Linked DNA regions of Homo sapiens: regions 1, 2, 4 and 5 are each linked to region 3. Evidence: fine-mapped expression QTL. A gene starts in region 3. Each other region holds a variant in brackets. All regions are shown on one strand. Distances are from middle to middle. Region 1 overlaps PTPRB (protein tyrosine phosphatase receptor type B). Region 2 overlaps CNOT2 (CCR4-NOT transcription complex subunit 2). Region 3 holds the start of KCNMB4 (potassium calcium-activated channel subfamily M regulatory beta subunit 4). Region 4 overlaps CNOT2 (CCR4-NOT transcription complex subunit 2). Region 5 overlaps CNOT2 (CCR4-NOT transcription complex subunit 2).

The links.
Region 1: its variant is fine-mapped to the expression of KCNMB4 in substantia nigra (GTEx, PIP 0.97). The same link has a PIP of 0.9 or more in putamen.
Region 2: its variant is fine-mapped to the expression of KCNMB4 in monocytes (TOPMed, PIP above 0.99).
Region 4: its variant is fine-mapped to the expression of KCNMB4 in whole blood (TOPMed, PIP 0.99).
Region 5: its variant is fine-mapped to the expression of KCNMB4 in whole blood (INTERVAL, PIP above 0.99).

The regions. Positions count from the first base shown.
Region 1 is chr12:70,533,323-70,538,427 of GRCh38, reverse strand. PTPRB (protein tyrosine phosphatase receptor type B) reads left to right here. Exons shown (of 34, transcript NM_001109754.4): 28 at 197-273; 29 at 2,269-2,403; 30 at 3,473-3,595; 31 at 3,777-3,940. All of the region lies in intron 6 of PTPRB-AS1 (PTPRB antisense RNA 1), which reads right to left. Among named protein-coding and RNA genes, the nearest start is that of PTPRB-AS1, 68 kb to the right of the region's middle. The variant A/C (reference allele first, on the strand shown) is at 2,147.
Region 2 is chr12:70,339,814-70,344,918 of GRCh38, reverse strand. It overlaps CNOT2 (CCR4-NOT transcription complex subunit 2), which reads right to left. Exons shown (of 16, transcript NM_014515.7): 12 at 2,751-2,812; 13 at 2,612-2,661; 14 at 691-791. Among named protein-coding and RNA genes, the nearest start is that of KCNMB4, 24 kb to the left of the region's middle. The variant C/T (reference allele first, on the strand shown) is at 2,966.
Region 3 is chr12:70,363,254-70,368,358 of GRCh38, reverse strand. KCNMB4 (potassium calcium-activated channel subfamily M regulatory beta subunit 4) reads right to left here and starts at 2,069. Exons shown (of 3, transcript NM_014505.6): 1 at 1,289-2,069. The coding sequence starts at 1,624. RefSeq lists a silencer at 2,014-2,253.
Region 4 is chr12:70,277,825-70,282,929 of GRCh38, reverse strand. CNOT2 (CCR4-NOT transcription complex subunit 2) reads right to left here. Exons shown (of 16, transcript NM_014515.7): 2 at 4,656-4,798. The coding sequence starts at 4,703. Among named protein-coding and RNA genes, the nearest start is that of CNOT2, 37 kb to the right of the region's middle. The variant C/T (reference allele first, on the strand shown) is at 2,828.
Region 5 is chr12:70,256,946-70,262,050 of GRCh38, reverse strand. All of the region lies in intron 1 of CNOT2 (CCR4-NOT transcription complex subunit 2), which reads right to left. Among named protein-coding and RNA genes, the nearest start is that of CNOT2, 16 kb to the right of the region's middle. RefSeq lists enhancers at 2,952-3,485, 4,469-4,969. The variant A/T (reference allele first, on the strand shown) is at 3,165.

The DNA.
Region 1 (5,105 bases), 170 kb before region 3:
TGTGTCTGACTGGTTATAGGCCACCTATGCAACATGGGGCAAGTTAGTTATCCTGCCTGAGCCTCATCTGCAAAATGGAGATAAGATCACTTCCCATCTGTGGCTGTTGTGGGGATCAGAGCTAAGGCACATCACACACATCACATAAACTGTAGAAAAGTCACTCCAAGACTCAGCAGCAAATCTCTCCTTCCAGATGATGCCACGCGAGTGAAGCTCTCCAATGTAGATGATGATCCTTGCTCTGACTACATCAATGCCAGCTACATCCCTGTAAGTGACCCACTAGGCCATAGTGTTCAGGATGAGGCTTTGGTGGGTGGCTACACTGGAGATGCCACTCCTCCATGTTCCTGTTATTCTTAGGTCTGGAAACACCTGTAGATTTCAGAAGAGCACATCTGAATGCCATAAAAAAAATGGGGTATCCAATTCAGTTCCTGCTACGCCACATTTTTCACAATGGCTATAGTCAAATGAAATTATGAGCCCAAGATGCATTTTCATAGATCATCTACTCTCTGCAGTCCTTAACCAAGATGAGAGCTTCCTAAGGAAGATGGACCTCCCCTGCTAAAGCTGCCTAGCTAGAGAAGCTGATCCCATGTTATTTGGAATCTTCACAACCACAGACACAACTCAAAGGTTATATCAAATCTTTGGGCTCTGGTTTTGGTTAGCATCTTGCCACCTTCCTATGGCATACTGCAGTGGAAAAAGCTTTCGGGTCAAACAAATCTAGGTTTGAATCCCACTTCTGCCCCTTGTTGATTCTGTGACCTTGGGCACATTATGTCACCTTTTTGGGCCTCCATTTTCTTTTCCAAAAACTGATGATAATAATATTTACCTCATACCTCAAGCAACCATCCATTCACTCAATAAACACTTAGAAATTAAGTGCTAACTGAGCTGTTTACAGGCATGGGATAAGATGGAATCCTGACCCTAAAGGAACTCTCAGAAGAGTTGAGGCAAGAAAAGGCAATGGCATGGGAAACCTGCCACAGCAGTGCCTCTCCTACATTGAAAGATGTCTGCGCCATCTGAGGATCTTGTGAAAAGGCAGATTCTGATCCATCAGGGCTGAGGCAGGGCCTGGGAATCTGTATTTCTTTCTTTTTTTTTTTTTTTTTTTTTTTTGAGATGGTCTTGCTCTGTCTGCCAGGCTGTAGTGCAGTGGCGCGATCTCTGCTCACTGCAAGCTCCGCCTCCCGGGTTCACGCCATTCTCCTGCCTCAGCCGCCCGAGTAGCTGAGACTACAGGCACCTGCCACCACGCCTGGCTAATATTTTTTTGTATTTTTAGTAGAGACGGGGTTTCACCGTGTTAGCCAGGAAGATCTCCATCTCCTGACCTCATGATCCGCCCGCCTTGGCCTCCCAAAGTGCTGGGATTACAGGGGTGAGCCACTGCGCCCGGCCGAGTCTGCATTTCTGACAAGCCTCTTGGTGATTTCAGTGCTGCTGGTCTGAGAACGGCACTCAGTAGCGAGAGGCTAGAGATTGCCATGGGGCATCTTGGAGAATATCCCCCAGCAGAGAGAAAGATAAAAGAAGGCTCAGCCAAGCAGGCACCATGCTGAGGATAAGTAAGGATTGGTCAGATGAGAAGCAGTGTTTGGGTGGGCGGGGGTGGCGATGGCAGAGGTGACATAATGTGGAGACCCTGAGGAAAGGCAAAGAGAAAGAGCTTCGATTAGAATTGACAAGGAATTGCTGTCATTGCCGGAGTGCAGAAGGAGTAGATGAAAATATCCCGCTCTTGGACTGTGGTTTGGATTAAATAAGTCCTGACCTGCGACACATTAGATGGTAGACGCTCAGTCAACAGTTTCTCTTCCGTGATGCTTCCTGTGGATGATATATCTTACCAAATTATTCTGACATTGATTATCCAAAATGACTAACACTCTTCTACATTAAATAGGGAAAGAGCCTGATTACAGTCCCTCCAACAGTCTACACAAATACCCCCCAACACACACATATAATTGAGGGTGAAGTGTTTTCTAGATCATTGCCTAAGTCCCCCATTTGCTTTCAGAATAGACCCAGGCAAGTAAAAGGGAATGTGGCTCTTAACACTAGTTCAATGTTCTGACCTTTGTCCTTCCTGCTCCCAAGCATTGACACTTGTGTTAGT[A/C]TCTTTTTCTGAAGTCAGAGACTTGGCAGAGACCTCCCTATCATCTAATCTGAAGAACTCTTTGTTTATAGTTCTGAAGAGGCCCATTGTTTCTGACTCTCCATATTGTAAATTCATTGCAGGGCAACAACTTCAGAAGAGAATACATTGTCACTCAGGGACCGCTTCCTGGCACCAAGGATGACTTCTGGAAAATGGTGTGGGAACAAAACGTTCACAACATCGTCATGGTGACCCAGTGTGTTGAGAAGGGCCGAGTGAGTAAACAGCCTTCCTGGCATCAAAGCTTTGCTTTCTGCCACCTGGATAGAATTCTGCCCCATCATCAAAGTGAAACCCCGCAAAACAACGTAGGGATCATGTGAGAGCATTGTTAGTGACTTATACCACTCTGTTCAAAAGACTCTAATAGTAAACCCAAGTGATGCCTGATTCTGATTCTGGGTCTGAAGTTCCAGTCAAAGCTGTTTCCATTTGAGGACTGGGATTAGTGGCAGTGCCCATTACACCAAAAATTACCTGGCCACTTGGCTACTCCATTCTTCAGTGTCTGGCTGGAGGAGAGACCCTGCCAGAGTCACTGGACCTGCCCCTCATCCCAGGAAAGGAGAAGTGAGTTGTAGACTGTGTTGGCAGACACAAAGTAAAATAATAATCCAGACAAATCAACCAAACCCCCTTGTAATGCACTTACCATCCTCTACTTTATATGGTTATTTTGAGGATTAAAAGATTGAGGATTAAAAGAGAGATTACGTATAAAGTGCCTAGTATCTGCGCTCAGTAAACATATGCTTACATTCCTCTTCCCCTTGTCTGTATACATGTAAAGGCGAGCTTAGCTAAACGTTCTAACTTCTCAAAGATCTCTTGGCACACGGCCCACGTTAGGACAGTGACATAAAAATATGAACGAAGAAGGGCCAGGAAGACAGTGCCTTCCTCTACCCAACTAGATATTTCTTTCTTTAGAAAGAACAATACGTTGTGAACCACAGTTTACCTGCTAGTGGAACTGAAATGCTGAGGGGAAAAAAAAAAAAAAAAAAAAAAAAAACTCAAGCCATATATTACTGGGCCTAAAAAATGAGTGAACCCAAAGGTTGGAGTCAGGGGTGCTCCTTGTACAGGCTCTCCCCTTCACTTGGAGCAGCACCTCAGCTTCAGCACTGGCCATGAGAAGGTTAATATAAAGTAGATGGTCAAATTGCTTTAGCAGCTGATCCCAGATTCCTAACTTTGGAAGACATTTAGAGGAGGGAAACCCCAGGTTCACCAAGGAGTCACTTTTCCGGACTCATGTTTTTTCTGTCTGTCCTGTTCTAGGTAAAGTGTGATCATTACTGGCCAGCGGACCAGGATTCCCTCTACTATGGGGACCTCATCCTGCAGATGCTCTCAGAGTCCGTCCTGCCTGAGTGGACCATCCGGGAGTTTAAGATATGCGGTGTATGTTAGCTTGCTTGACTTAACAACCGAGCTTGGGGAGATGAATGAGATCTGTGAACCCCACTTTCGCTGGTTCCTCTCTTGTAGTTTCAGCCCATAGGAGTTGCTCCATGGCTCAGCTGTCAAGTTTGAAGGTTTGCATTGGACAGTTCCTCTTTTATCCTGCTCTCTGCTCTTACAGGAGGAACAGCTTGATGCACACAGACTCATCCGCCACTTTCACTATACGGTGTGGCCAGACCATGGAGTCCCAGAAACCACCCAGTCTCTGATCCAGTTTGTGAGAACTGTCAGGGACTACATCAACAGAAGCCCGGGTGCTGGGCCCACTGTGGTGCACTGCAGGTACTAGGAAACCTAGCAGCCAATAAAATGGCAGCCATAAGGGGGTTGTGCCTGGGAGTCTGGAAAAATACATAAGCATGGGGAATTTGGTGGGTGGAGGATTTGTCTGGACCAACCAGCCTGCCTCGCCCCCAGAGGGTTTTATAACGTTCCTCCCCTTCTGCCAACATCATTTCTCTTCCCTGACTTCTTTTCCACTTTCTTCCCCTGTAGCCTCTCTCTCATCCTCACTCTCCAGCCTTCTCTCTCCCTCTTGCTTTTTTCCTACTTTCTGAAATGCAAAGTCCTGATGGGAATTCCATGCTTTCCATCATCAGGCATATCACCTTCAATCTAAGTTCCCAATAACTCCCTTCACATTCTAGCCAGGAAAGTGAGCACACAAGCTTATTCTTGCCTCTGGCCATTCTTCCATTTTGGAATGGCTTTATCTCTCTTCTCCACCTAAGTCCTACCTATCCTTCAAGATTTATTTTCTAATCTTCCCTCCAGGTCTAGTAGCATGTCTTTGTCTATTTGTGCTGCTAAAACAAAATACCACAGACTGGATAATAAATAATAGAAATTTATCTGTCATAGTCTAGAGGCTGGAAGTCCAAAATCAAGGCACTGGCAGCTTCAGTGTCTGTTGAGAGCTTAGTCTCTGCTTCCAAGATGGTGCCTTGTTACTGTGTCCTCCAGAGCAGACAAAGGCTGTGTCCTCACATAGAGGGAGGGATGGAAGGGCAAAAGAACCTAGCTAGTTCCCTCCAACTGTTTCACAAGGCACCAGTCCCGTTCATGAGGGCAGAGCCCTCATGACCTAATCACCTCCTCCACCTCTTAATACTGTTGCATTGAAGATTAAGTTTCAACATGAATTTTTGGAGGGGACACAAACATTCAAACCACAGCACAGCAATTGCCACCTGTAGCACCTAATTTTTTCTCTTAAATTTGTTCTCTTGATTTCTCTTTGCTTCAGTCTGTCCAGAAAATCAACCTAACAAGTGAAATCTCTCTCTCTCTGGCGAGCCTGGTATCTAGCAAATTAATGTTTGCAGCAACATTTTGATAGCCCTAACTGAATGGCACTAATAAATATGGAGCAGGGAACTGCAGCAGTAAGAGAAATGCCAAGTGTACTCATCTCCTCCCTGTCAGCCCAGCACCCTAGGAGCCCTGC
Region 2 (5,105 bases), 23 kb after region 3:
CTTATAAGTAATAATGTTTATGAAATGATTAAATTCAGTATCGAATTATTTATACATATGGTTCCACAAGGAATAAAAAACATAGTCATGAATATCATATAATTCACATATTTACAAAAATTAGATTCACCAAATCCATGAGTTATGTCAATTCTGTCTTCTTACAAATTTGGCACTTATTAGTTATTTTTAGAGACAGGGTCTTGCACTGTCAGCCACACTAGAGTGCAATGGCACAATCATAGCTCACTGACACCTCAAACTCCTGGGCTCAAGCGATCCTCCTGCTGTAGCCTCCCAAGTAGCTAGGACTATATAGATGTGTGCCACCACACCTAGCTAATATTTTCCTTTATTTTTTGTAGAAATGTGGTTTGCTGTGTTGCCCAGGCTGTCCCTAACTTCTGGCCTCAAGTGATCTGTCCACCTCACCAAAGTGCTGGGATTACAAGTGTGAGCCACTGCACCCAGCTTCAGCATTAAGTTTGAAATTCTTTTTAGGTATATAGATTATGAAGCCATGGTTAAGATACGGTTTTAATCTAAATTAAATTCACTTTAATAATGTAAAAATAAATTTCTTGATGGAGAAATAGTTCCATTTAAAGATAGCCATCATCACTTAAAGATGTTTTCAGCATAGTCAAGATCCACTATAATACAAAAGTGATTAAAATACTTTGAACATACAGCTCCACTGCAGCTAAAAGTTGTAATACGTCTCCTCCATTCATGTAATAGAGATAGAAGAGAAGGTCTTCACCATATCGGCCAAGTTTTATTGCAGCCAGCTGAAAAAGAAAAATAACTTATTCTGAAATATAAAACAAATCTGCAAATCCTAATATATAGTTGCTACTACTAAAGAAAAAATGGAGAGATAAACAGAAACTCCCCACTTTGTAGTAGATAACTGTTATTACATGATTACACAGATAGGTAGTTAAGATTCTAAAAGGGAATTTCCTCATTTAAATGACTGAAGTCATTTAAACAATTATTTCTGATACATCTAATTGATATGCTGACTGGAAGAAAAGCTCAATAAAGACTTCCAAGCAAGATCCACTAAAAGGATTTAATACCCAATGGGGAAAAGAACCTAACAATAGCATTGTGCTCAGAGATCTAGGACTTGTATTCAAGTCCTGGTTTTATTACTCATTAATATGACTGTGTCCTAGTTATTTAAAATCTCTTAGCTTTACTTGTCAAATGTGGACAATGACACCTATGAGGGTTACTAAGAAAGTAAATAAAATGAGTGAAGGTATATGAAAGCACCTTGTAGAGTGCCAAATATATAGACGGCTTATAAAAAATGTTAAACTGAATCTATATCTGACAGTGAATGATTCACAAGTCAGTTGTATGCTTTCAGCAAATCACAGATGATGAATACAAAAATCATAAAGAAATGGCTTTTCAGTTTGTTTAAATAGATGTCTGAAAGATGATTGCTTTACATTTCTCTCCCCAAGGTAGAAACATAACTGCTTACCAAACTGTAAAACATAGGTTCAATAGTCTCAAATTTTCACATTTAAATAAACCTTAAAAGTGTCCCAAAACAACATTTTTATCTCGTTATTTGATCCTATATCGAAATACTTATTTGGTTATTACACATTCTCTGAATGTAATTTTTCTCTCCATTCATGTTATCCCTATTCAGGCAGCAGCCCCAATGTGACAAATTCTCCTAAATTAGTATTTCTCAAATTGGTAATAAGAAAAGGTTCTGGAACACTTTGGTAATTGGAGCGAAAGAGCTCTACAGTGGTGGTGGGAGCAAATCACACAATCCGCAAATAGAAAATAGGAGACCTCTCCATCTTGTATTTCTTGCCTTTTATCTACTCAAGTATTAGAAGACATTGAGAAAGGTATCCCTTTACTTGCCTGTCCACATCAACATCCACTTGACCACAGAACTGTAAGGCACACTCAGAATGCTGTTGTATATATACACATACACATAGATATTTATACACAAATATATAACAAAAATATATTTTTTCACTAAATTGTAGTTTCCCAAGGCTAAAATTTAGGTACCATTGTGAATATTTTTTGGTAATAGAAACAAACTCTCAGTTCTTCTAAAGCAAAAAGTGCCACCATTTTCTTTCTTAGATTGAAAAAAGAGAGATTAAGCTGTAATCTGTTGTTAATAACTACTTTAGAATTAGAATTTTAGGTGATTTAAAAAAATGGAAATGAAAAAATACAGAGAAAAGTCAAAGGTCATAAATAGTTTTTAAAGATACAGACCATCTCATTAAAAACACTGTATCTGTAATACTTGTAACGAAAATCTTTTTACTGGTAAGGTCATAAAATAAGATTATCAGAAGGATATTTATCAAATGTTCCAATCTAGTTTATTCTCATCAACTGCGGTTATGGTTGTAACCTGTTGTTAAATGTAAGAATTTTTATTTTTTACCAGTCCTAACATTTACCATTTAACAAGTTAACATGGACATATGAAAGCATATCCCTGAGACCATTACTAATTATTTCAAAAATAGTATGCTGCCTGAACTGAAAAACATGTGAAAAATAGATAAATTCATGCTGACTGAGTAGAATAATAAACTACACTCACCTTATCCCTAATGTGAATGTTCGTTAAGTACTCAGATGGAACATGGAAGTCTGGATAATAAAATGAAAAAAGCCTTATTAACTGATTCTCAATTGTAAATTTCTTTTTAAAAGGTCTAAACACAAATAGATTCTCCTACCTATGTCTTGAGGTCGACAAGGTGAAGATGCCCAGGGTGACGCAAATTTGGGGTAGAGATTTCTGAATAAGGAGGAAAAGAAAACATTTTGAAATCCAGAAAAAGAGATTTCTAATTTTATTTCAGGAAAAACAAAGACTCCAACTGTAAAATGACCATCTTTACTTCTAATTCCCTTACTTGGGTTTACTGACTTATACAGAAGCAAATGAAGA[C/T]TGTGTGTGTTTGTGTGTGTGTCTGTAAAATATGATAGGACTCCTTCCCTCAGTATTCTTGCAATACAGTATAAATAACACAACATATCACAATATACAAAACATGATTAAAAATTTTCTACTTTTACTTGATTTCAACTCAAGATGCTTTAAATTCTTCAATACCATGCTCCCAATATAAATTAAATTTTAAATAAATTTTAAATAAATTTCCCATTTATTTGTGTGGCAAGAAGAAAACTGAGTAACTATTTGCAAAAGTTTAAATTCATCAAATATTTACTGAGTGCCTATTATATGCCTGGCACTGTTCTAGGAGCTTACGACACATCAGTGAGCAAAACAAGATCACTGACAACATGAAACTTACTTTCTGGTTGAGGATGGTGGATTGGAGGGGGACAGACAAAATCAATTAACAGAATAAATAAATAAACAATGGCCCATGTTAGAGGGGAACTGGGAGGGGAGACTGGATGCATAATTATTAAATAGGGTGGTCAGTTAGGTTTCATTAAGGTGGTCAGATCTGAAGATTTGAAGGCTATAAGGGACATAGTCATATTAATTATCTGGCAGAAGACTCTTCTAGTCTGAGGGAACTCCTAGAGCAACTAAGGCAGGGACATGACTGACATGCCTGAGATATAACAAGGTGGCCAGTGAAGCTGGAATACAGTGAACAAAGGGAAAAGCTGTTGAGGTGGGGTTAGGGGACAAACAATAATCATGTAAGACCTTGCAGGCCTGTGAAGATTTGGGGTTTCTGGTCAAGCGCGGTGGCTCACACCTATAATTCCAATACTCTGGAAGGCCAAGGTGGGCAGACCACTTGAAAAGTGAGGAGTTAAGAGACCAGCCTGGCCAACATGGTGAAATCCCGTCTCTACTAAAAATACAAAAATTAGCTGGGCATGGTGGCACATGCCTGCAATCCCAGCTACTCAGGAGAATCGCTTGGACCTGGGAGGTGGAGGTTGTAATGACCCGAGATTGCATCACTGCACTCCAGCCTGGGCGACAAGAGCAATACTCTGTCTCAAAAAAAAAAAAAAAAAAAAAAAGATTTGGGGTTTTTAATCATAATGAAACCACAAACATTTACTGGGTGTTGAGCAGAGGAGTAATGTATTAAAAAAGGATTGTCTTGGCTGTTATATGAAGAGATTGTACGGGAAGGGGTATAAGGACAATCAGGGACCCCCAGTGACTGGCTAATGGAGTATTCAGGCAAGAGAGAATGATTCAAACAAGGGTGGTAGCAGTTAAAAGTAGTGAGCTTTGGTTAGATTCTGTATATATTTTGGGAAAAGCCTGATTATGGGGTATAAAAGAAAGAGGAGTTAAGAATAATGCCAAGTTTCTGGAAGTACAGAGTTACCACTAACTGAGATTGGAAAGGCTGTAGACAGAATAAGTTGGGGGGTGATCATTCAAGAAATATTTAATTGGCAATTGAATGTAGAAATCTCAAACTCAGAAGTGTGGAATGGAAACATATGTTTGGGATTCCTCAATATATATGGTATTTAAAACAATAAGACTAGAAAAAGATCATCAAGGATGTAAATGCAGAGAAGAGGAATGACACTGAGGTCAAGAAGAAAAGGAGGAGGTACCAGCAAAGGAAACTGAAAAAGACCAACCAGTGAAGATGAGGTAAAAATGGTGCTCTCAAATTCAAGTACAAGAATGTGTATCAAGGAGCAAGAGTTCCTCCAAGTGACCACTGAATTTAATAACATGAAGGTCATTTGGTGACCTTGATAAAAGCAGCTTTAGTGAAGTGGCAGGGACAAAATCCTGACTGAAATGGGCTTACCAGAGAATGGGAGAAGACCAAGTCGGAGAAATGGAGATGACTCTTTGAAAAGTTTCGCTTCAAAGGGAAATAAAGAAATGGGAAAGTAACTTACGGAGGAGGTTGGATCAAAGGAAGATTTTCTTCTAAGATGAGAGAAGTAACAATGTATTTCTATGTTGATGAAAATGACCCAACAAAGTGTGAAAATGTGTTGTAAGTAGAACGCATGGGTCAATTATGGTAATAGGGTGGAAAACAAGAATAACATAGGTGTAGGTGGCTGTAGGTAGTCAGATTTGTTGGCTAGACTGTGCTAAATGTGCTCTTCTAATTGCT
Region 3 (5,105 bases):
TTAAAAAGAAATATTTTCTAAATGTCTCAAATTCAAGAATTTACTGTTCAGGAGGTAAGACCACAAGTTTTATTGCAGAGTGACGGTAAGCTGTTTTAAATACTATTATAATATTAATGTAGAATTTTTTTCTTTTGGATTAATATAAATATATCTTGTTAGAGTTAACAGAAAGTTTTCCTGTGAACACAAGATGCATTCCCTTTTGGACTGTTTTTCTGCTTGATCCCTCAAAAAAAGGAAAAATGTCAGTAACTTTTAAAAAGATACATACCTTTGATAGTTAAGCAACAAGGAGAGCAGAAAAGATCAAGGGAAGTAGAAACGGAACCAGAACCAGGTGCACTACAAAGCTCAATTAGTTCACAGGCTAAGGACACTGCTTTTTATAAGTTATTTTTCTCCATTGGGAACAGTTTTCTGAGACTTCCTCTCTCTGCTCTCCATCCCGGGAGTCCTAACCAGGTTTTATCTTTTTTTTTTTTCTTTTTCTTTTTCTTCTTGCTTGCTTTCGAGACCAATAGAAGTTGTCAGAGAAGTCATATTAGGTACATTTCACTGAAGGTTTTCTATTTTCAGCAAGTTTTACTGTTCTCCAGACGACTCCTGACTGTCCCTAAACACAAAGGGTAACTAGGCTCCCTGTAGACTCTTTTGAGAATCTATTTCATGAAAACTAGGAGCCCTCTGTACTTCCCAAAATGGACCCGCAATATTCCACATTTGATTCCGGGTCGTTTGTCAAGCCACAAAAGCTTATCTTTGAACCCCAAGTTGAAAATGCCTATGTAGAGCGAAAAGGTGAGGAACTCTCTCACAACTTTCGAGAGTCCCCTCGACCTTTCAAGGAAGGTCATTCCATCTGAGTTCTAGATGAGACCAGCTGAAGCTCGGACCTTGACCGTGAGCTGGAGTAGGTGGATCCCCGCTAACCACTGGCTTTAAATGGAGGAAAAGTTAACTTTCTTGGCTCCTTGCACTTCTCCAAACCCAGTCCGGTAGGCGCAGGACCCGGACTGGGTCGAGGCCTCAAAATCTGAGACCAGGCAAGACAGGTTTTAAAGTAAGCCTCTGGGCACCACTGGTCGCCGCGCGTAAACCCACCTGAAAAGACCGGAGCCCTGGGGCTCCCTGATGTAGTCATTCCTGGTTTGAGCACAGCCTGCGCCACCTGGTCTCCTCCTAGCAATGCGAGCACACGCCGAACCCTCCCCGCGCGGAGTCTAACACCGACGCTGCCTCCAAACCTCCCTCGCGGGGAGCCCCTGGGTGCGCGGGGCGTTCTTACCTTGGGGTTGGTCAGGAGCTGGTGCTCGTCGCTGTGCAGCAGCGCCCTAGAGTTGGACTCAGAGTTGTTCACGTAGACCTGGACGCAGGGGTACTGCGAGGTGCCCCTGCAGTCGGCGCCACAGGTGAAGGTGCACTCGAACACCTCGCCGATCTGCTGCACCGACAGCACCGTGCAATTGGCCTCCGTGGCTTGCAGATCCTGCAGCGCGGGACTCAGCCAGCAGAAGCCGAAGATGAAGAGCGACACGACGCCGGAGATGATGAGAAACAAGCCGAGCCGGATGCTCTTGTCCTCGGCTTCCGTGTACTCGTAAGCCACCCGGAGCTTCGCCATCGCCCCCCACTCTCGGCGGCTGGCGTGCTCCCCCCGCCCCCTCCCGCCCCCGGCGCCGAGCCCGACTGCCTCGGGCGGGAGGAGCCGCCGCCGCCACCGCCGCCGCCGCGCGACAGCAGGGGAGTGGGCGGCGAGGGGGAGCGCGCGAGAACAAAGGGGCCGAGGCCAGCGACGCCCCCGGCGGCGGCGGCGGCAGCGCCCCCCAGCCCCCCAGCCGCCGCCTGGGCCCCGCGGTGCAGCAGCCGCTTCAGAGCCTCCTGCACCCTCGGGCGCGGGGAGCGCACGGACCGCTCCAGCTTCCAGCGCCCCCTGCCAGCCTCCGCCCCCGCACTCTCCCCGCCTCCCCCACCCCGCCTCCTCTCGTCGGGTGTCTCTCTGTCTCCATCGCCCGCTGGCCGCTACTCCGCTGACTCGCCCGGCAGCTGCCCCAAGGCTAGGAGTGTCTGAGCTGGGGCGAGCCCGGGGGCTCCCCCGTGCAGGAGGAGGCTCCGCCCCGCCCCGTCCGCAGCAGACCCGGGCCCTTCCGCCCCGCCCCGCTCCGCCCCGCCCCGCCCGGGGGCGTCTCCTTTGGGCGAGGGGCTGACGGGCACAAGCGACAGCGGCGACTTGCAATCGGAATCTTCGCTCACTCCCCTTAGAGGGACGTCCGAGATGAAAGATTAAGATCAATTTAGCTTAACCGGAGGGAAGTTAAAATAATAATAATAATAAGAGGGGAGGGTGGAGTTCAAGTGGAGCGGCGGGAATCTTGAACTCCAAACGAGTACTGGTCACCTGCAGGGAGAGCGGCCAGGCTCCGGGCGCACCCCGGGAAGCGGGCACGGGTGGCGGTGTGGGAGGACACGAGCCGCCCAGGCCGGGCGGATCGAGGTGAAAGCCCCAGGCTAGCGGTGTGCGCTGGGAGGTCCCCGGGGACGACTGAATCGCAGGTTCCCATGCCACGGGCGGGCTGGCGCGCGGTGGTGCCGGAGGCGTGACCCAGCCGCGCCCACGCCGCCAGCGGCTGCGCCCAAGGGAGCGCAGTAACCGTCCAGTCCCAGGACTTGGGCCTCCTAACCGTCTTGGCGCAGACCCGCGCCCCCTGACCCTGCTGAGGCCGGGAGGGCTGCAGGATTGGAGTTAAACAAGCTGAGTCAGGTGGAGTTTGCTGTGGAGGCAATGTGCGTGGGGGCAGGAGGCTGGACGAAGGAAACTTGCTGCTTAGGTCGTCGGTGACCCTTGTGGCAACTTAGGTCTCTGGCAGCCGAGTTGACCCCAACTTGATTTGCCCCCATGGCTGGGGCTGACTGAGACCAAAGGAAAAAGGTGGAGAGCTTTGCAGCCTGGAAAGAAATACCACTTTACCCATCAGAAAAGTACTCTTGCTTTGGGGCTCGCAAGAACAGAATCATTTCTGTCGTTTCCCTCCTTAGGAGTCTTGCCACCCCTGACCCGCCCCAGGATTTGTAGATGAGGTTTCCAGGAGCGCTGCTTAAAGCGACAGCGCCGGGCAGACCCACTTTGGGACAGGTACTGTTTCTAGACCTGTGTTCTGCTCTTAATTCTTGCCGTTGCTCCCTCCTCCCCCAATTACGCTAACAATGCTTCAGCCTCTATTGTTTTCGCGACCTTTTTAAAGTTAGAATGACCTTTTCCCAAACTACACTTTTATCATAAAATCAAACTTGAGAACTATTTATATGTACATTTCGAAGAATAAAATCAGAATATTAACTTCCTTGCAAACTACATAAACTTTTTTTGTTTGCTTGTAAGTCTCAAATGAATAAACTCTTAATTATGTTCCTGATGAATACGGAAACATGGAATCATGGAATTCTTGACTTCTCTTTCCTGGACTTCAAATGTTACTTAACTGGTATTGAGTACCTTTCGACTGCAGTTCTGATAACGTTATTTTGAAGCACTACATTATGACAGGTAACAAGTATTTCCCAGCAATGGGCAAATTAATTACAGGAAGATCCTAAGTGTCTTTTTCTCAATAAATTAAGAAGATGTAGAGTTTGAAAAACGTCCAAATTAGGAAGATGCTTTGTTCTCTAATACCTTTCAGGTTTTGAGATTTTCTTTTTTTAATTTAAATGTAAGAATTGTATTCTTTTCCTGTTAGCATAAAGACAATTGTGATTACATTGCTTAAAAGTGAGTTTAATAATTGAAATAGCATAACCGAAAATCACAAATCTTCAATCTGAATCTTTTTCCTATTGCAGGAAAAATAAAAAACATAGGAAATAATCTTTTTTTTCTATTGTTATAATCTTCTTTTCCAAGAAAGGAAAAGCTATGTCTAAGATCTGAAGCAATGATGAACAAATAACAAGATACAATTATTCTAGCTCAGTATGTTGAGGAACTGAAATGAGGCAGAATTAATTCCTATTAATGCACAGCAGTTGGGGGACTACCAATAATTTAATGAATATGGTTCGTTTTTCAATGATTCCAGAGCTCAAAGTCTTCTGTGAATGAAACCTCTGCCTCAAAACTGAAGTACGGTGGTCTAAGTCTAGGGAACAAAATCAGAAAATTCTATCTTATTTTAACTGAAATTCTTGAAGTTTTAAAATTCATTTTCTTTCAGTTCTGCATTTAGTCAATTTCTTTCTTGGCAATTATTCTTAAAGTATTTAAAGAAACTTGTGTCTTCTGTTCTCTAGACATTTTTTTCTCCTGTTTCCTGTTTTTAATTTAGCTTTTCTCTGAACACTTTTATCTTCACATCTTTATTGAAAGTCAAACGTATTAAGACTTCACAAATTAAATCAATTTCTATTTTATTCTTAATGAAACACTGGAAGTGTTTATTAGTTTTACTTACTTGAAGCGGAGCTGCTTTATCACATTCCCAAGGAAGATTGGATATGTCAGCCCCTCAGTTTCAGAATACAGGTCACCACTTACTAAGTCAGAATGGTAGTAAGAACTCCAGGAAAGCTCAGAAATGCTAAGATCTGAGGTCACTTAAAATCTCTGTTCCCTGTGAAAGGTGGAAGTAGCACAGAAAAAGCAGCTAGTCCTTTCTTTGAATAGTGTTCCACCAATTAAGATTAAAAATGTAATATTAAGAACCAGACTGACTTATTTGATGTACATCGTCTGCAGTAGTTTTTCCAGTAGGATCATGGCCAGGTCTTGATAAAGTTCAATTTAAAAGAAAAATAAAGCCTGTCTAAACAAGGGCATCAAAGCCATGTTACTTATAATTTGTTCTCATGATCAATATTCAAAAAGTCCTGTGGCTGATGCTAAAGTTGCAGTATACAATATCATATGTATATATACTTTTTAATAAAAGATTCTAAAAATAATTTTAAGGCAGGCTTTTGTATCCTAGGAATAGAAGGGAATTTACAGCAGGTGGGAAAATTTTTTCAAAAATTGGCACATTATGAAGTTTTTTGATAACTGCCACTAAACACTTGAAAAGCGAAAATACATAGGAAAATAATGTATAATCACTTTTTCTATTAAAATT
Region 4 (5,105 bases), 85 kb after region 3:
TGTTGAGTACTTTAGCTATATCTAGGAAATTGTTTAGGGTCTTAAGTGGGCTGGAAATTATGATTTTTCCTACTCAAAATAATAAAATATGGGGCACCACTTTCCAAAAAATTGCCACACAATACATAAAAAAGATGTACCTCAATATACTGAAAAACATATATGTAATAAGTTATAAAAATATAAAGAATGAAACACAAAATTAAAACTATTGATTACTTCTGGGGAAGAGGGCAGAGGAAAGAATGGGAAACGGAAATAGCTCCATTAAGTACAATGCAGAAAAATACACATTTGTTAGAGACAAAGACAATGAATCACATCTACACTATATAGTCACTAGTAAAGATCTGAAGAGGTACACACCAAACTGTTAAGAGTAAAGTTGTCAAGGCAAACTTTCACACTGTATTTTATATTCCGTATTTTTCTTCAACGTTTTGGTAATAGGCATCTGTGATTTTTAAAGTTAATTAAAAGGAAGTAAGATATTTAATGTTGGGGAAGAAAATGGCAATACAATCATTTTTACAGTTCTCTGACATACTATATTCCACAAAAATACAATGTTTTAGATTATGAATCATTCTTCAGAAACGTACGGAATAGGATGCATTAGACCCAGTTTGTAGATAATGCATTGAATTAGCTAGCATATGATGTGACCAATGACCTCATACTGAAAAGTTCCATTCAAAGTAACATCTAAATATCTTGCAAATACCTCTACCTTCCCATACCACTTACACTGGTATGTTACCCAGTATACTTTCCATTTCTTCCTTTCCCTTCTTTCACTGTTTTATTTAATTTTATTGGAACAACATGCATTGAACACCTATCTACATACCAAGCACCAAGCTAGGTATTGGCAGTACCAAAATAAACAGATACGGTCCCAGTTTTCAAGAAGCTTATTAGATACAGCAGTATTATCTAATACGATTTTCTGCAATGATAGAAATGTTCTGTATCTACACTGTTCAATACAGTAGCCATTAGCAGCATGTAGCCACTGAGCATTTGAAATGTGGTTAATGTGACCAATGAACTTTAAAATTTATTTAATTTAAATGAGTTTAAATTTATTTAATTTAAATGAGTTTAAATTTAAATAGCTACTTGTGACTAGTTCCTACGGCATTGGACTGCACAAGTCTATAGGAAGACAAGGACAAATAAACACAACTACAATGTATTATGGTAAACACTAAACTAGAAGTATGTAAAGGCTATGAAAGAAAGGGAAAGGAACACTGAATCTACCATAGGGTGACGTCTGGAAAAACTGATACTTAATTCTTGAATCATGTGAACAAAGGTGAGGCATTACATGAAAATAACCAATATAAGTAAACCCCTGTGGGTGTGAAACTGCATGGCAGGGAGATTAAAAGCAGTGTTGTATTATTAAATGGGAAAATCTACTACAAAAAGTAACAGGAGATATATTGGAAAGGTAAATGGATGTAAGGAGGCCAGAATTTGGAAAGTCTAAAGGTAATGTTTAGAAGCTTGAATATGTTATGTAACAAAGGGAAAGCCGGATCGGGCACCGGTGGCTCACGCCTGTAATCCCAGCACTTTCAGAGGCCAAGGCGGGCAGATCACGAGGTCAGGAGTTCGAGGCCAGCCTGACCAACATGGTGAAACTCCATCTCTACTAAAAATACAAAAATTAGCTGGGTGTGGTGGCGCACGCCTGTAATCCCAGCTACTCAGGAGACTGAGGCAGGAGAATCGCTTGAACCCAGGAGGCGGAGGTTGCAGTGAGCGCACCACTGCACTCCAGCCTGGGTGACAGAGCAAGAGTCCGTCTCAAAAAAAAAGAAAAAAAAAAAAAAAGGGAAAGCCATTGATTAGTTAAATTGGTAATTAAGATGGTTTACATTTGTGCATGTGCATGCTCATAGCTAGGGTAAGTTAGTCTAAATTAGAGGAAGATAAGAAAATGGTTACAAAAACTGAAGGTGCATTTCCTTGGAAAAAGCTTGACAATCCAAAAATGAACCATGAGCCATATAATAAATTGTTTTATCTGAACTAATATGCCAGTCTATCTCTGCAAATAAACTTCAGCTACTGTATTCAAACTCCAAATACCTAACTGGGCTTAAACTTATAGTAAGAAAGAAAACACACAAAGTAGATACCACCATAAAAATCAATACTTCAAACCAAGCCCATTTAAAAGTCACTATCTTTAGTATAGAGCCAAGGGAATGCACCTTCCTAAACTTAATTCCTAAGGCTTTAATCAGGTCTGTAAGGAAATGAGACCTGGATAAATTTTACAAAAATTCTTGTTAAACTCTTCAATATTAGCCTATTATCAGAATGTTCAAATAAATATAAAATATTAAGTGTCCCTCAAAAGCAAAAGCCCTCAAAGATAAATGAAAATGGTTATAAACATAGACACAAAGAAATTCTACTTTATCTATGAAAAATACATAAATTTCCTCCAAAGTAGAATTTTTAAAAATCCAAAATCATTTTCATCAATTCGGAAGATTTAAGTTCTCTCTTCTAGCTATTTTGAAATATACAATACCTTCTTGTTAATTATAGTCACCCTACTCTGCTATGGAACATTAGAATTTATCCCTCTATGTCCCTTTTCTCTTTTGTTTTTACTTAGTGATGCTAAATGCATATTGAAGTATACCTTGGAAACAGCTGTTTAAAGCTGGATTGTAAAATTATTTTATTTTTGAACCCTACTCTGAAAAGCACATGTATAGAAACAAAATTTCCTGTTTGGTATTATGATGAATATATTAAGAATATAAAAATTCTTAGACTACCAGTACAAATATAAATGTTA[C/T]TTTAGTGATGAACATTCCTTTGAATTTCCCATACATTCTTATATAGACATTCTATACATGTAACAAAATACCACATGTACCCCATAAATACGTACAATTATGTATCAATAAACGAAGAGAGAAAAGGGAAAACATTTTGAGGCAGCAAACCCATAACCAAAAATGCATTTTCCAGGTATGCTCAAAAACCTGGATTATTTGTAAATAATATGACTGAAACAATGGAGTACTTTTAGTGTAGAAAGAGCAAGAATAAGCAAATCTCTTCATGTATAAAACATAATTCTGTTTTCTTTCTTAAGTATAAATTTTGGAATTCTATATTAATGTGGTTCCATGAGACAAATTAACTATAGTGTGTAATCACATAAAAATTCTACATTCACACTTTACAAATTGGATTATGAGCACTGAAAAGCCATATAATTCAGAATCACAAAATTCTTAAAATAATTTGGCAGAACCTACCAAAAGATGCAGAAGTCCAAGAAGTGTGACCAATTAAAATCTTATGAGTCAAGGTAATTGGAAGTGGGTGGGAAGCAGGAGCTACACCTGAGTACAGATCATTAGCAAAGGCTATGTTGGTCAAGTCTATGAGGACAACTCAGAAGAAAGGTTACAGAGAAAACTGATTCAGCATACCCTCAGTTTTCTCTGGCTTATTAAAATCATAAAGATCTGGCAAGAAACTTTAGATACCAAGTTAGAAGAAATTCTAGAAAGGTTAAATATGACATTATTTTTAATTAGGAACAGTGCCTAAACCAGAACCCAGATCTTATAATCAAAGCCTCTTTGTTATACCATACACCAAAAAGACTAATTTACAATTTGCTCCACTGCTAACTTTTCCAATTTGAGGGAAGAAAAGATTAACTGGGCTAAAATAAATGGTTAGCAGATAAACAGTTAGTTAACCAAAGCTGCTGCTATCATACTAGCTGCCTTCACAACCTAGAGGGAATGAACTGATGAGTGAAAGGAAGTGTGGGAGGTGGGGAGGTTGGACACATATCTGTGCAGGAAGCCTAAAAGTTTATTTGTACTCAAACTTTAAAGTATTCTGTATTCTGGATAACTAAATAAATGTGATAACAGATCACTATCAAATGAATAAAGGATATTTCCTTTAAAAAACTAAATTCAAATATGTTGGTTTTCTTTAAATCACTGTTTAATAGCACAATCTTTAAAATTCACCTTCTTTTCAAAGCTCAGAAATAGCAATGTTACATTTCCACTATTCTTCCAGCCTTCCTACACACTGAATAAGGAATGAATATTATTAACCACCTTATTAAATGAGAAAACAAGAATCTAGCATTTAAGGACAGCAAACTAATAACAAATTCAATAGAATTTGGGTCTCTAAGCACCCTGGGTTTCTCATTTCTATTTCTTCTATACTCTACTCAATTTTGTCTACATTTCTGTGATATATACTTTGTTATCCAAAATATAGCACAAGACTTCGGGTTTAGTCTTCCAGGAATAATATACGTAAAAGCAATCAACACTTTTGTTTTTACCATTTTGAATTCAGTCATGAAGTCATAACTTGTATATCAAATAATCTAAGTTTTGACAAATATCTCAGAAAACCTGATTTGACACTAAAAAATATACATTATGAATATGCTTTATTTTGAAAAGTGTTCCCAACTATTTCAACTATCAAATCCAGTACTTAATTTAAAATTATAAACCCAAATTTTCAAATTGAGGTGTAACCAATTTGCTGGTTCCAATTACATATAACACATTTGAACAGTTTCAATGTAGCTATAAGACCAATAGAGAAAAAAGAAGAAAGACTGGTCTTACCTGGTAGTTTCTTTTCTCAGATAATGTATGTCCATCAGTCCTCACCATAGAGTCGTGTCCTTTCCTCACAGTACCGGAGGCAATCAAATAGAACTGTCACTCAAGGGTCGTGTCACAGGAAGGACCGCCCACCACGTCTCCCTCTAGAGTGGAATTATCCAAAAGCCATCAAAATTACTAACATGTAAATATATCAACAGCAGCAAAAATATTCAATATGATACACAGAAAACAAAAAACAAAAAGTAATTGTTCTATACTCTAGTCTTCCTCGTAACCATTTTCGCGGGCTAGACTGGCATACTTTATTTGCAACAGAAATTATTAAATATGAAACATTCTTCCTACCCACTTCTACTTTCTTCAATTAAGACTGTCTGCCAGACATCACACACAAGGGAGAAATTTACAGTGAATAAAAAATGAAGTGGACAAAAAAGTTTACCCCTC
Region 5 (5,105 bases), 110 kb after region 3:
ACTACAACTTTGTAGGGTAGGCATAACAAGGATCGTAAAGAAATAATGTGAACTGAATACTAACAAATTAAATAACTAAAGGGAAGGGACAAATTCTTACAAAGTCACAGACTATCAAAATTGACTTAGGATGAAACAGACAATCTGAATAAACCTGTAACAAGTGAAGAGATTGCATTAGTAATTTTAAAACTTCCCATAAAAAAAAAAAAAAAATCTCAGGCCCAGGCAGCTTCACTGGTGAATTGTACCAATTTTAAGAAAAACTGATACCAATTCTTCACAAACTCTTCTAAAACAGAGAAGAGTTTTGGAACCTGGAACATTTCCTAATTCATTTTACAAGACCATTATTATCCAGTTAACAACATCAAAGAAATCTCAAGAAATGAAAACTACAGACTGATATATCTTATGAAAATAGGCACAAAAACTGGCCAGGCGTGGTAGCTCACGCCTGTAATCCCAGCACTTTGGGAGGCTGAGGCAGGAGGACAACGAGGTCAGGAGATTGAGACCATCCTGGCTAACATGGTGAAACCCCGTCTCTACTAAAAAATACAAAAAAATTAGCTGGGCATGGTGGCAGGCGCCTGTAGTCCCAGCTACTCAGGAGGCCGAGGCAGGAGAATGGCGTGAACCTAGGAGGTGGAGGTTGCAGTGAGCCGAGATCATGCCACTGCACTCCAGCCTGGGCAACAGAACAAGACTCCGTCTCAAAAAAAAAAAAAAAAAAAAAAAAAAAGAAAGAAAGAAAATAGGCACAAAGATCCACAACAAAATACCAGAAAACAAATACAGCAAAATAGGGATTATACAACATGACCAGTTGGATTTATCCCAAAAATTCAAGAACTGTTCAACATCATAAAAACAAAATAATGTAATACAACATATTAGAACAACCACATGATCATCTCAAAAGATGCACCAAAAAAAGCATCTGAAAAAATCTAACAGCCCTTCATAATAAAAGCACTCAACATACTAGAAATAGAAAGGAACATCCTCAAACTGATAAAAGGTATCCATGGAAAAAAAAACAAAAACACAGGTATATACTCAAAGGTGAAAGTCTGAATGCTTTCCTTATATGATCAGAGATAATACAAGGTTGTCCACTAAACAGAATTGCCATTTCTATTTCATACTGTACTAAAGATTCTAGCCAGAACAATTAGGCAAAAAAAAAAAAAATAGAATGCATCTGGATTGGAAAAGAAGAAGTGAAACTACCTCTAATTGCAGATTACATGATATCATAGATAAGAAAATCCTAAAGAAGCCACTAAAAAGATTATTATAAACACATAAACCTAACAAAAGAGCACCGAAATGAATGAAGCAAAAACTGACACCTGAAGAGAGAAAATAGCCAATTCAACAACAGTGGTTGGGAGACTTTTAATACTCCATGTCAATAATGAATACAACAACTAGATACAAGATAAGTCAACAGGAGACTTGAAAATATACAACAGTTTACATAGCAGTTTAATACTTAAGATTTTATTAATAGTAATGTTTTATAATAATTAAGTAAACAAGTGCAACAAGGTTGCAGGGTACAAAATCAATACGCCAAAATTAATTGCATTTCTATACAATAACAATGAACAATCCAAAAATGAAATTAAGAAAATAACTCCATTTCTGAAGCATCCAAGAGAATAAAACACTTAGGTGTAAGTTTAACAAAAGTAATACAAAACATACCATAAAAACTACAAAACATTCTTAAAAGAAATTAAAGTCTATTTTGGTACTCAATTGATTAAAAAAAAAGAAATTAAATAACTATATAAATAGAAAGACATCCCATGTTCAGTTTCAACACAATTCTATCAAAATTCCACCTGGTTTCTTTGGAGAAATTAGCAAGCTAGTTCTAAAATTCATATGGAAATTCATGGAGCAGATACTAATAAAACAATCTCGAAAAAGAACAGAGTTGGAGGATTCTCAAAAATTCCTGTTTTCAAAATTGCAGATCGTAATCAAGGGATACTGGCATAAGGATAGGCATACCAATCAATGAAACAGAATTGAGAGTCCAGAAATAAAGCTTCACATATACAGTCAGCTCATTTTAGAGAAGGGTACTAAGATAAATAAATAGAGAAAACAGTCTTTTTAACAAATACTGAGCTCCAAATCATGCACATTTTTCACTATTATCTCTTCAAATACTCTATACACAAATTTAAGTCTAGCAACATACAAAATCTAGAAGAGGTTTTAGCAGTCTCATGATAAAGGAAAGCGGCAAAACTGGGGGAAGAGGATATTTATTATATGCATTCATTCAACAAACGTTTCAGGCACCAGTTAGAAGAGTACTAGCCAACAAAACAATATCCAACAGAAGTGAACAACTGATACATGCAACATAAATAAGTCATGAAATTATGTTGAGCAAAAGAAGGCACAAAACAATGCAGTACCTACAAACCCGTTTGTTCGAATCTCTAGAAAAAATCTCAAATATACTGACAGAAAGCAGATCTGTGGTTGCCAGGGCCATGATTGGGGTCTCCATGGAATCAGTGAACTTGAGGGTTGATGGGAATATTCTGTATCTGAATGATGGTGATGGTTAAACGGGTGTATAAATTTGTGAAAACTAATTTAAAAAAGGACACTTAAACGGGTACCTTGTATTATATGTAAACTTCCTTGACAAAGTTGATTTAAAAATAAGAATGGTATTAGTTCCTATGGATATTAAAAAAAAATAAGCCCTGCATGAAAACTCACCCTAGATCAACACTAAAAACTAAGCCCGGTCTGAATTTCACTGTAAAAGTGAAAGGCTCTGTAAGTATGCTTGAACAAGAACAGTACAAACAAAAATTCAGGAGGTTTTGAAGTCAAAGACCTGACTCTGGATCTTACTGGCTAGCTTATGTGACCTTGAAGAAGTTAATTACCAGTTATATGCTAGAACCTACCTTATTTACTCAACTGTAAAATGGGAAAAATTCAGCTAACCTCGTGTAACAACTGTGAAGAGTATATACAAGGTATATTTTACTGTAAGTAAAAATGTCCTTATGGTAGCCTAGCAAAGTCTTTCCTCATTTGCCCTTTTCTGTACCCATCTACCATTCTCTTCCTTTCCCACTACACTCTAGCCACACATACTGCTTTGCAATTTTTTAATC[A/T]TAAGACATCAAGAATCCGTCTCTCTCAGGTTTTTTGTTCTTTGTTGTTGTCCCTTCCTGAAAGCCCTTTCTCCTGAACAAGCACAGGATTGCTCCCTCACCACAGGCTCACGCCTTGAGGGGAAATCAGTGGGAAAGGACTTCCCTGACCAGCCTATTTAAATCTGCACCTCATACACACTCCATACTTTCCCTTAGTTTCTTTTCCTCCTTATCCTTACCACCATCTGTCAGATTATATGTATCTATATAGATTTTATTTTGTACACTGCTATATTCTTTTGGAATAGCACTTGGGGCACACGGTAGGAGTTAAATAAATATTTGTTAAATTAATGAATGAGTAACATAAAATATCTAATACAATACCTAAATATTACTTGTCTTTGCCTACTTCCCACAAGCAAAATACTATTTTCAAATACATCCACAGATATGAAAGTGATTTTGAAGCCCTCCAGAAAACATAAGCTTAATACTGAAAATACAATCTGATTTTAACATAACATCTTAACCTACATTTTCAGTGTTAATACAGTAAATTAAATTAGGCAAAAATTCTTTTAAACTTTTTCACCGTAAGTTTATCCAGTTTAAACCCCTTGGAGATCAGTTTTGATATGGTACTTCTGTATATTAACCCTGTCTCATAATTGTGTGATGCTATTTACTTTTTCTTCCCAGGAAGTATGGAATAATGCTTGGGAGGGGACCACGGACAGGACTATAACATATTACTCTTATTTTGTCTTTATTCTTATTAGTAAGAATGAAAAACATAAACAGAAAACGTGAAAATAGAAGTGAATATAAAATATTGCTTCTTCAGAGAAAAAGCCAAAAAATACAAGTTTTTAAAATTATCAGTTTATAACTTTGAAATTTAGAACTTTTTGTTAACACAACATACTCAGTATCAGTGACAGTAAATTAAAAAGGACACAATTTACACAGAGCTGCAGAGAATGTAAACTGGCACAGCTTTGCTGTAAGAAAAAAAGCAACTGAATATTAAAAGCTTTGGAAGATAACTTTTCATACATCCAACATATTTACATTTGTTAGGCCTGTACGAGTTTTCAATATACATTAATGAACTAGACTGAACTTGTCCCTACTCATGATCTAGTGGTGGAATGAAAGACAAAATTTTTTTAGCGTAATAGCTAATTACAATAGATGCTAGGGAAGAAGAGTCTACTTAAGAAAAGGGTAGTTGGGGCCGGGCGCGGTGGCTCACACCTGTAATCCCAGCACTTTGGGAGGCCGAGGCAGGTGGCTCACGAGGTCAGGAGATCGAGAGCATCCTGGCTAACACGGTGAAACCCCATCTCTACTTAAAAAAAAAAATACAAAAAAATAGCCGGGCACAGTGGCAGGCACCTGTAGTCCCAGCAACTTGGGAGGCTGAGGCAGGAGAATGGCGTGAACCCGGAAGGCGGAGCTTGCAGTGAGCCGAGATGGTGCCACTGCCCTCCAGCCTGGGCGAAAGAGCGAGACTCCGTCTCAAAAAGAAAAAAAAAAAAAAAAAAGGGGGTAGTTGGGGAAAGACTCACTGAGAGTATCCTGTATACTATCGGATGTGCTAAATGCTATACATATGTTGTCATTTACTCCTTCTAACCTCTGAGTTAAGTATATTATACCTGTTCTTACAGAGAGAATACTAAGGCTTGAAAAGTAATCTCACTAAGGACACAGCAATTGGCTAAGCACTGGACCTGCTTACCTCCAAAATTCATATACTTTGAAATGATTGTACTTATAGAAATTTCTTCTAAAGAAATAAATGTACAAACAATTCAGGTACAAGAATGTTCATCACAGTGCTATTTATAAAAGTAAAAAAAAAATAAAATGTTCAATCATACACAATCATTAAATCAGTTATGCTCTGGCCATTAAGAATCCTGTTTTGGATAAATATATGACACTGGAAAA